Linked DNA regions of Homo sapiens: region 1 is linked to region 2. Evidence: fine-mapped expression QTL. Tissue or cell type: caudate. Region 2 holds a variant in brackets; the other region holds the start of a gene. All regions are shown on one strand. Distances are between the middles of the regions.

The links. PIP is the estimated chance that this variant, and not a neighbour inherited with it, causes the effect.
Region 1: it holds the start of MPPED1, and the variant in region 2 is fine-mapped to the expression of MPPED1 in caudate (GTEx, PIP above 0.99).

The regions. Positions count from the first base shown.
Region 1 is chr22:43,408,918-43,414,062 of GRCh38, forward strand. MPPED1 (metallophosphoesterase domain containing 1) reads left to right here and starts at 3,097. Exons shown (of 7, transcript NM_001044370.2): 1 at 3,097-3,241. It overlaps LINC01639 (long intergenic non-protein coding RNA 1639), which reads left to right. Exons shown (of 4, transcript NR_146918.1): 4 at 169-764.
Region 2 is chr22:43,747,786-43,752,930 of GRCh38, forward strand. All of the region lies in intron 6 of EFCAB6 (EF-hand calcium binding domain 6), which reads right to left. Among named protein-coding and RNA genes, the nearest start is that of EFCAB6, 62 kb to the right of the region's middle. The variant G/C (reference allele first, on the strand shown) is at 2,614.

The DNA of each region.
Region 1 (5,145 bases), 340 kb before region 2:
TGACATCCTGATGATCGCGGGAAAGTAGGAGACAAAAAATTCCCATAAATAAAGTAGACTCCCCCAACCCCCACCCAAAATCTTATCATCAGGGTTGAAATTTTGCTGTATTTACTTCCTGACTTCTTTCTCCTCTTTCCCTCTATTTTTTCATTTTTCAAAACACAGATTCGGGCACACTCTGGTGTAACCTGCTTCGCTCGTTCGCGGGATGGGTGGTGAGCATGGAGCCCATTTTCCCATGTGGCATTTCAGCAACAGGACTTGGCTATTTGAAACTCCCCAGACATAGCAGGATTTAAAAAACGGATCCCCTCTGGCTGGGCATTTAGGTTGCTTTCACTTCTGGGCTGCTATAAACAGCCTGCAGTTACTGCCTCAGGACGCCTTTCTGGAAGGTGAGTTTCTTGGCCAGGGGATATCGCACATGCACTTTGGAGCCTCTGAGCCTTTGCACAGGCTGGTCCCTTTGCCTGGCTGCCCCTCTCCCATTTATCCCTAGATTCTTCTGCAGCACACACACTGCCTCCTCTGAAGTGTCCTGGCTGCATGTGCTGCTCTCCTTGCCCTGGGCTGCCCTCTTCTCCCTGGTGTCATGAGTATCTGCTGACCTTCTGCTTCTCCCATGACAGAGTGCCTTCCTTCTCTTCCTTCTCTGCCTTGGCCTCCAGCACGTAGTAGGCGCCTAGGAAATGTTTTCCAGCAGAACGAGCCATCTCCTGGCTGGTTTAGCAGTGTGGGATTGTGTGGTGTTTCTATTAGTCTCCATGAACAAGTGCCACTGTGTTATTAAATTTTTCCAAAAGCAGAATGTGTGCTGTGTTTGCCAGAATGGTTGCTCTTTTAGGAGTGGGTCTATCCTGCCCATCCCACACTCCTCATTCCCTCATCTTTTAGGGACCATTCCCTGGGCACCTACAGAGTGCCAGGCCCTGTGGGATGCAGCACTAGGCGCTGGGGAGGCTGACCTCTGGGATGCAGCCTGGCCCAGGGGAGGCATGAGGGCTACATAAGACAGTGTGGGTCAAGCTGAGAGCTCTGCGCCTGGGACTGGGTGGTGCAGGTAGCACCAGGTCCCTCTGGTGGAGAGCTCATGCTTGGCTTCAAAGCAAGTGCCGAGTGCCAGGAATATGGTAGATGCTCAATAAATGTGTACCCTGGGAAGGTAAGAGATGATGCTCTGGGACTTGAGGGTAGTTCTGGTAGGACTGGAGGTGGTGGGGAAGCTGGCCTTGGAGGACAAGTGTCACAGGAACCTCTGCTCTCGACCCAGGGACCAGGAAGGCACATTTGTCACTGTCCTTTGTGATCTCCAGAGGCCACAGCCAAGCTGTGGCTTTGTCCCAGGCAGGCGGCAGGTGGGGTCTGCTGAGACACTGAGTCCAAGCCGCCTTCCCAGGCAGGCATGACAGTTTTCTCCTTCACCTCCCTCGAAGTCACGGTGCTCAGGAAGCCTGTAGCCTAGGAGGAGAAAGAGGCTCCCGGGTTGAGTTTGGGATTCCCTGAGAGAGAATTGGGGTCTAAAGACAAGGAAGCAGGAGGGGGTGACTGCCTCAGGACTCCTCGGCCAGCCCTTGCCCCCCATCTCTGGCCTGAGGGCCCCAGGCCTCCATCCTCTCCCTCCATAGCCCAGCCTCTCCCCCTCTACCTCTGTCTTTAGAGGTGCCAGAACAAGCTGTAAAAAGATAAACGTGACCAAGTCACAGCCCTGCTTAAAAACCCTCTATGGCTCCCACTGCCCCTGATAAAGTCTATCCAAGGCTCTTCCCGATCTGGCTTCTGTTCCCTCACTCCCAGCCTTGCCACCTCATCTTCCCTCCCTTGCTTTTCCTTTGTCTCTAGCCCCAATGAACTCACATGCCAAGGCCTTTGCATGCCGCATTCCCTCGGCCTGGATGTCTTTTCCAGGCCTTCTCTCCTGGCATACACTCATTCAACTGGGCTGTCCCCACCTCCAGGAAGCCACACCAGATAGCAGTCCTCAGGGGCAGAATAGGCCTGAGGGGCCCGCAGAGGGTGTCCTTGGGGATTGTGTGATGTGTGTGTTGGTGAAGGGAGACCCTACAAGCATTTGTTGAGGGGCTTTGGGCCTCTGAGGAGCCACAGCCCCTTTTCATCTTCCTCTCAGTCTGGGAGGCCCAGGCCAGAGTGATCTGCACCCTAACTATACAAGGCCCTGGAATCCCCGTCCCACCCGCGGCAAGGGGCTGGAAGCCACAGGGCCTTAAACTCCCCAGGGTGACCCCCGACACTGAAGGCGATGGTCTCTGCTCTTCCCAGCAAGGCAGGGCCTCTTTACACTGGGTGTCGCGCCGTCTGAGTTCCTGACTTGTTTACCCATCCCGTTGGGGCTCCGGCCGCTGCAGGCTACCTGCTGTGCCCGGGATTGGGGACCTGTGACTCCCGAGTGGAAGAGATGGTGGCCCAGGAGGAGGACCCCGACCTATTCAGACTGGGAGCTGGGGTCAGAGTGTCTCCGTCTCCGGAGGGGGACCTTCCAGACCCCGGGCGGGAGGGGCCCACAGCAGGGTGCCCCGGCGGCCCCAGGAGGGGGTCCGGGCCTCGGGCGAAGGCTGCGGCGCCCCGGAAGGAGCCGCGCACGCCCCTGCACGCGGTGCCCGCTGCGGAGGCCACGGATCCGGAGGTGAGAGCGCCCCCGCCCCGCTCCCTGCCCAGCCCGCGCGCGGCCCGGTCCGGGGCTGGGGGCGGGCGCCAAGAGGGGCGCCGGGCGCAGTGGGGCGGCCCCCTCCCTTTTCCGCAGCGCGGGCCCCGCTCCTCCTCCCGCGTCCAGGCCCGCGGCCGCGCTCCCTGTCCCTCCGCAGCGGGATGCGGACTCCGAGCCCGGGCGGGGGCCGAGGGCCGAGGCCTGGCGGGCCTGGCGGGGGCCCCGGCGGGTGGCGGCGCAAGGGCCGGGACCGAGGCCGCGAGCGCGCCCCTCCCGGCGGCCGGGCGCGGAGAGGCGGGGAGGGCGGGCGTGGGGAGGCGGGCGGCGGCGGGCGGGGGGAGCCAAGGAGGCTCGGAGCCTCGCGGCGCGCGGGCGGGCGGCGGAGGGGGCGCGGGGAGCCCCCCGCCCCACGAAGGAGGAGTCTGGCTCCCACTTGCAGCCTCGGACGCGCGGCGAGGCGGCCGCCGCCGGAGGAGCCCCCGCCCCTGCGCGCCTCCCTCCCGGGAGCCCCTGCCTCCCTCGGTGCGCGCTGCTGCTCGCAGCCGCCGCGGCCGCCGAAGAGGAGCCCGGGGCCAGGTAGGACCGGAGGCGGGCGGGGCGCGGCGGGCGCGGGCGGGAGGCCGGGCGCGGGGCGCGGCCGGGACCCTCTCCAGGCGCTGGGCGACGCCCGCGGCGCTGCGCAGGGGCGCCCGCAAAGTTACTTTGGCCGCCTTTGCCGGGTGCGGGAAGCGGGCTGGGCACCCCAGCTGCCCCGCCTGCCTAGCGGGCGGCGGCGGGAGGGGGCTCCGCCAGGGCGCGGGACTCCGGCTGGGGCCGCGGGGTCAGCGAAACTTTTCCCTTGCTCGCCAGTCGCTGCTGCTGCTGGCGGAGTAGCTGGTGGAAGCAGCGGGCTGGTGGAGTGCCAGTGATGATGATAGTGGTAACAATAGCAGCCCCCGCTTGTAGAGAGCCTACTGTGTGCGCTGCCAAGCCCCTGCTGGCACTTGGGGGGGAAGAGATAGGGAACGAACGCTGGCCGAGTGGCCACTTTTGCTAGGTATTGCTGGAAACTTCATCCATTTCCTTCCATCCATTCATCCCTCCCTCCCATCCATCCATCCATCCATCCATCCATCCATCCACTCACTCAACACATATTTATTCCTGTCTGCTATGTGCTCGGCCAGGGGATTCAGTGGCTACCTAGACAGGTCCCAGCCCTCAAAGGGAATGTTGATCATGGAATGCCCAAACTAAGGAGCAGTTCTGTCTCCTGTGTGTTTGTTCTGGGACATGTTACGGGAGCGTGAATTCATGCTGTCTCCCTTCACCCTGGCAGGGCCAGAGGCGTGTCATTCAGAGCACTGATGTGCCCAGGAGTCTGGCAGGCCCCGGCCTGGCCTTCGGAACTCACCCTGCTCCTTTCCCTCCCACCTCTCCGGGCTCAAGCTGGGTGGCCCAGTTGGTGTCAGGAGGCTCCACTCCGGAACTGGCCCCCACCCCTGTCCAGCTGACCTCTCTGGGATGTCTCTTCCCCAGTGCTGGGCTGGCCTGGCTCCCAGCTCCCCTCCCAGAGTTTCTTTGCCTTCCCCCTCCCCATTTCCCCTGCTCTATTGAATGGCCCAGAGGAGAGCTTGTTAAGTGGCAAACAATTATGAAATTAAACTGGGGGAACAAAAGTGGGCTGGCTGTTGAATGGCGGAGCTGGCTCACGGGAGTTGAATGGCACTGGGAGACTTGTTAGCAGGGATCTGCGGCGCCGGGGGGCGGGGGCGGGTCAGGCAGACAGGCACTGTCAATAATCTGACTGGACTTTGCAAAAAAAAAAAAAAAATTAAACCAACTTGGTGAGAAACCTGGCACAGGGCGATGTTGGAGAGGCCACCAGCTGACTGCCACGTCCAGTCGGAAGCCAGATCTTGGTGTACAGGAGCCAGGGCTCTAAGAGACTATTTGGGGAGGGTGCTGATGGATTCGGCCGGGCTGAGGCAGGGGAGAACCTCAATGCGTTTGAGCTTGTGGTGCTAGGGAGGCATTCTGGAGCCAGGCGCAGTCTGCAGGGGCCCTCTGTGTGGGAACCACGCATGATAAACTGCGCTTCACCGTGCTGGGCTCCTTGCAAATTGGCTTTCTGAGTGGCAGCCCCACAACACTTGTAAAATCTTTTTCTGGAGATGGATTTCGGTGGAATGGTTCCATCGATTCTAGTGCTTGCTCACTGGAGGTACATTAATTGGGCGATGGCTAGTCAAAAGGCGATAATCCAGTCACGGAGGCTTAATCGTGTGTTCGGAAGTGTTTCAGTGTGGGACTGCCTTCCTATTTATTTCTCGGCCCCAGGAATTTCGGAAGACCTGGATTGAATGAGGTCCCTGTACTGGTGATGTGGATGGGTTCAGAGAGTCACCTACATGGCCGAGGAGGTACCTCTGATGTAACCACCCCGTGGTACGCTTAGAATCACTCACATCCACCCTGGCTGATGCCCCGTGGGCTATGCC
Region 2 (5,145 bases):
CACCCTCCCTGGGTACCTCCCCAGTAGCCAATAGGGGTGACTTTCTCTTACAAAGTCTTAGAGAGTTTACTGTCCACATCTCTCAGCTGTCAGTATGAGCAACTTGTATCACTTTATTCCCTAACTCCTCCTGATCTAGGTGATATACCGCCCAATAAACACATTTTTAAACCATCATAATGTGTTGCTTACGCTTGTGTCCCCAAGGTGATTTTAAGTTTCTGGAGGACAAGAATCAGGCCTTAGTCTTCTTTGTATCCCCAATAACCACATGGTGTCCCCACAACACCAGTAGGTGCTCAACAAATGCAGACGATGATGGTAAGAGGGTGACCGATGACTTCCAAGCCTGGTAACAGGTACGCCTGACTCCAGTTGCTTTCCCAGCAAATGCACCCATGATGCTGCTGACAGCACTCTCCTAAATACATCATAACCCCCTTATCAGAAACCTTCAGTCATCCTCCTCCTGACCCATGCCGAAGGGTTAAAACCTGGCCTTCAAATGCATCTTTTCCGCCAGTCTACCTTTCAAAACTGATCTGTCCCAACTTGCCTTGAGAAACATAACTCTACAGAATAGCCGCAGGGCTTGTCTCCTTGCGGTGCTCTGGCCACAGCCCGGCTTCCCTCTCCTCATGTCCTTTTCTTAGGCCAGGTTGCAATTCTGAAAACTACCCCACATCTCTTCCCCTATCCCATCCTCAACGTGCATTGCAAGTCTATCTATGGTCCAAACTCAAGCTCCAATATCACCTTCCTCATCCAATTGTTCCTGGCTATTCCAAGGAATATGAACTTTTCTACAAAACTTTCTTTATTCATACAATAATTATTTACTGAGTGTATATCCGGCTCTAGGAACTGTTCAAGGCACTGAAGTTACCACAGTGGACAGGACAGAAAAGGTGCCTGCTCCCACAGAACACAGATCCCAGTCACAAACAAGCAAACAAACAACATTTCAGAATGTTCTACGTGTTACGGAAAATGTACAGTTTTAGGGTAGTCAAAAGACATCTCACTAGAGAGCTCTCTCGGGCAGAGCTCTGAAAGCTGGGACATTTAACTGAAGTGTACTCGATGCACAAGCAAAAGACATGGGTATGTTCACCAGAGAAGTCTGACGGGCTCTGGCTTATGTTTTGAACGGATAACTCTGGCTGTTGTGTGGAATGCAGATTATAAGGGGCAAGAGAGGCAACGGGAAACCCAGCTAAGGAGTCACTGACAAAGCACAGGCCAGCAACAATGGTGGCTTAGGTATAATGATGGCAGTAGGGATGGATCAGAAGTGTCCGGGTTTGGGATCTAGTTCAGGATACAGTAGACATAACTTGCTGACGGCCTGCATATGGGAGGGGCACTGGTAAGGGAGAGGTAATCAAGACTGGTCCTTGGTTTCTGCTTGAATGAATGATGAGTGGTAGAACCATTTACTGACCTGGGAGGAAGGATTCTTGGGGTGGGGCAGGAGGACAGTCACGAGTTACGTTTTTGTCTGTGGACACTGGTGAGTCTGGGGCCTCAGAAGGAGATATAAACGTGGGCACCCTCAGCATATAGCCCTCTTATTCTTCCCCTAGTAGCTTTCAATCCTAGAGCAGCAGTCCCTAACCTTCTGGGTACCGGGGACCAGTTTTGTGGAAGACAATTTTTCCATGGGCCAGTGGGGAGGGGGTATGGTTTCGGGATGAAACTGTTCCACCTCAGACCATCAGACACTAGTTAGATGGTTCTCATAAGGAGCGTGCAACGTAGATCCTCGCATGCGCAGTTCACAATAGGGTTCGTGCTCCTATGAGAAGCTAATGCCGCTGCTGATCTGACAGGAGGCGGAGCTCAGGCGGTGATGCTCATTTGCCCACCGCTCACCTCCTGCTGTGCATTCTGGTTCCCGACAGGCCACCAACCAGTACAGGTCTGCAGCCTGGGGGATGGGGACTGCTGCCCTAGATGATCGCATGCCATCCTTTAACTTCCCACGTAAGAACTCGCATGCTTTGTGTCCTCTAAATACAAACTCCTAATTTTGTTGAGTAACTTCTATGTGCCCAGCACTACGGTGAGTTCATTTTATATTTATTCTCACACAGAATCCCAATAACACTGAGAAAACCTTGCAATATTGTTCACCCAGTTCACAGATGGGGAAAGTCTCGAAAGAGGCAAGACTAGCTTGCTCAGGATCACTCAGAGAGTCCGTGTTGGTGTTCAAATGCATGCTTGGACTTGCTAAGGCCAGAGCTCCAGACTGTACCCCCACACCATGCTGCTTTAAACATTTACCCCTACAATCTTGCGTTTGCACTATTAATTTGTCACACACAGGAAGATTAAAAAAAAAACCTTAGTCCGAAATAATTGCAAATTCTGATATTGCAGAATCTTTGCTGTAGTTCCTTCATGAAAGCTTTAGTAAATTAATGATACAGCAACCAAAAATAGGTCCTGGGGTAGAAGTATTCTCAATATAATTTTTTAATAAAATGCCAACGGATTATTTTGTGGTGTGAGATTCTCTAGATCAAAATATAAGTGCTACTCTTCATTTAGATGCACGGAGACACAAGAATAAAAGCTGTGACATTATTAATCACTATATTCAGTTAT[G/C]ATTGATAGGCTTTTCTGCGGGGAGGAAACAGTGTCTCAGATACAATCTGTCCCAACAGCTCTACGATATGCTAATATTTTCTTCAGATGAAAGAGGAGATGTGTTCAAATACCTGCTACAATAGGCAATTAATACCAAGTGCAGCAAAGTAGAGCTGATGAAAGTAGGATTAGGGGAATATTAGGAATTAACCAAGAGCTTGCTTGTTTTAGTAAATGGCCTCATTTTGAGCTTGACACAGCCTTTTTGTTAGGCAAACAGACTGCATTCCTGTCTATTCATTCATGCTAATGTAGTGTTATAAAATTAAGGTGTGTTTATGAAATGGTGGTGATTCTAACAACTGATTCTTTATCCCTTGAATATTAAATTTTTAAATGTCTTTTTAAAGAAAATTCACCTCTTTAAGAGAATGAATCTACCCACCACTTTTGTCTCTTCTTCATGAGGATATTACAGAGCAAGCCAGCAGCTCAGCAATTATAATTATTTACTAATTACTTCTGAAATGACTATCTCCACACACCTCCAAGGCACCAGGGTAATCCCATAAAAACCTGTGTCAGATCACTCAGTGTCCAACAGACACGCTTGTCACAGCCGACTGGGTAGACCAGATGTTCTGGCATCATGGTGCCTGAACCTTCAAGCATTTTTTTCTTCTGAGAGCTCCCTGACTTGGGTAGTGACACGGTACAAGAGCAAACAGCCTGGGGCTTAGAATGCTTTGTTTTTCTTTATGTACTTCTTTAACTGAATATACATTCTTTAATTCTAGTCTTCAGTGAAGAACGTATTTTTTTTGTGAGGGGGAGAGTCACGACCTTCTGAACATACACTGTATTCCTATACAGGTCAGAATAGCTTTCTGTTTCTCAGTACTTCCCTCAACAGGGCTTACAATGAGCCCTCACCTCACCTTAGGTGGTAAGATGGGATTTTCTTCCTGTCTTAGCCACTCCTATCTTCACCTCTTGTCGGGAGTTGACAAATGATAGATGGAATAAAAAAACTTACACTTCGTTAGCCTGGCAACACACTGCATCTTTGTTCAAGTTCTTTCTCTCCTGGCAGTCCTCGCCTGAAGAATGTGAGGAAGCTGTCTGAGGTCTCGGGCGCTGCCACCACTCCAGGATGGAGCTGGGACCCCACAGGCAGACAGGGTGCATGAAAGACTGACGCGGTGGAGGAAGTGTGAAAGGCAGGACACCAGAGAGAAAAGGGAAGAAAACTCCCAAATGCCCACTTGAAGTAGATGCTCCATGGACAGAAAGGCAACTCTGTGGTTGGAACACAAAGCTCCACCGACTTGTGCGGTGATGATGAACAGAAAGACTTCTCTCTGTGATGGACTGGGTCTAACTACAGGTGTAACAAGTTGTCACATTTGCTGAATGCAAAGTAAGCATCAACATATGCCTGCTTAACCTCTTTTCTCTCAGCTTCCTTCCATATCAATATGGGATAACAACGGCACCTGCCTCATGGGGTTCACCTGGGAATTAAATGCCTTAATGCGATAAAGCACTTAGAACAGCTCCTAGTACGTGCTCAGTGCTAGCTATTATTACTAGAGTTGGCAAAATCTGAAAAATTACATTAATGTCCAAAAGATTAAGGCCCCACCAGCCAAGAGGGGTCCCTTATATAGGTAGCTGAAGCAGATGGATTGGTTGCCTTCCCAAATCCATTCACCTCTAACCACTTCTCCTTTCCATTTTTTTTTTTTTTTTTTTGAGATAGAGTCTCCCTCTGTTGCCCAGGCTGGAGTACAGTGGCACTATCTCGGCTTACTGCAACCTCTGCCTCCTGGATCCAAGTGATTCTCCTGTCTCAGCCTCCTGAGCAGCTGGAACTACTGGTGTGCGCCACCATGCCCAGTTAATTTTTGTATTTTTAGTAGAGACAAGGTTTCACCATGTTGACCAGGCTGGTCTTAAACTCCTGACCTCAGGTGATTCGCCTGCCTCGGCCTCCCAAAGTGCTGGGATTACAGGCGTGAGCCACCATGCCCGGCTGCCCACTTCTCCTTTCTAACAAAACCCTCTATTTTCCATTTTGTTCAGACATCCGCCCTTCTTGGGTGGCCATGTGCTTCATAGGAGGGAGCCCAGTGGCCACACCAGGTGGTGATTGAGGTTGGTCCTGGCTGCTGGCGGGAACCAATTTCCTTGCCCGTGATTGCTTTAGGTGTGGGGCATAATTCCAGGCTGTGGGACACAGGGAGGGACTTTCTCTTGTTTTTAGAGTCATATTGGGAAAAAAGGGCCCACTGAAAAAAATTTGACATCAAAGCATCTGCCTGGAGTGCTGGCAACCTCCTGGTAACCAGGAAGAGAGGTAGGTGTGTTAGTCAGTCCTAGTCTCCACGCCCTCCTGACTTCTTGGGTGAGATAAGAAGCTCCTTATTTTCTAAGATAGTTAACTTGGAGTCTTCGGTTTCTCATAAGGGAAAAAAACCAAACATCTCTGTGTCCAAGGGGTTGCCAGCTGGTGGCAGATAAAGACGGCCACAGCAAGGGTTTTAGTGG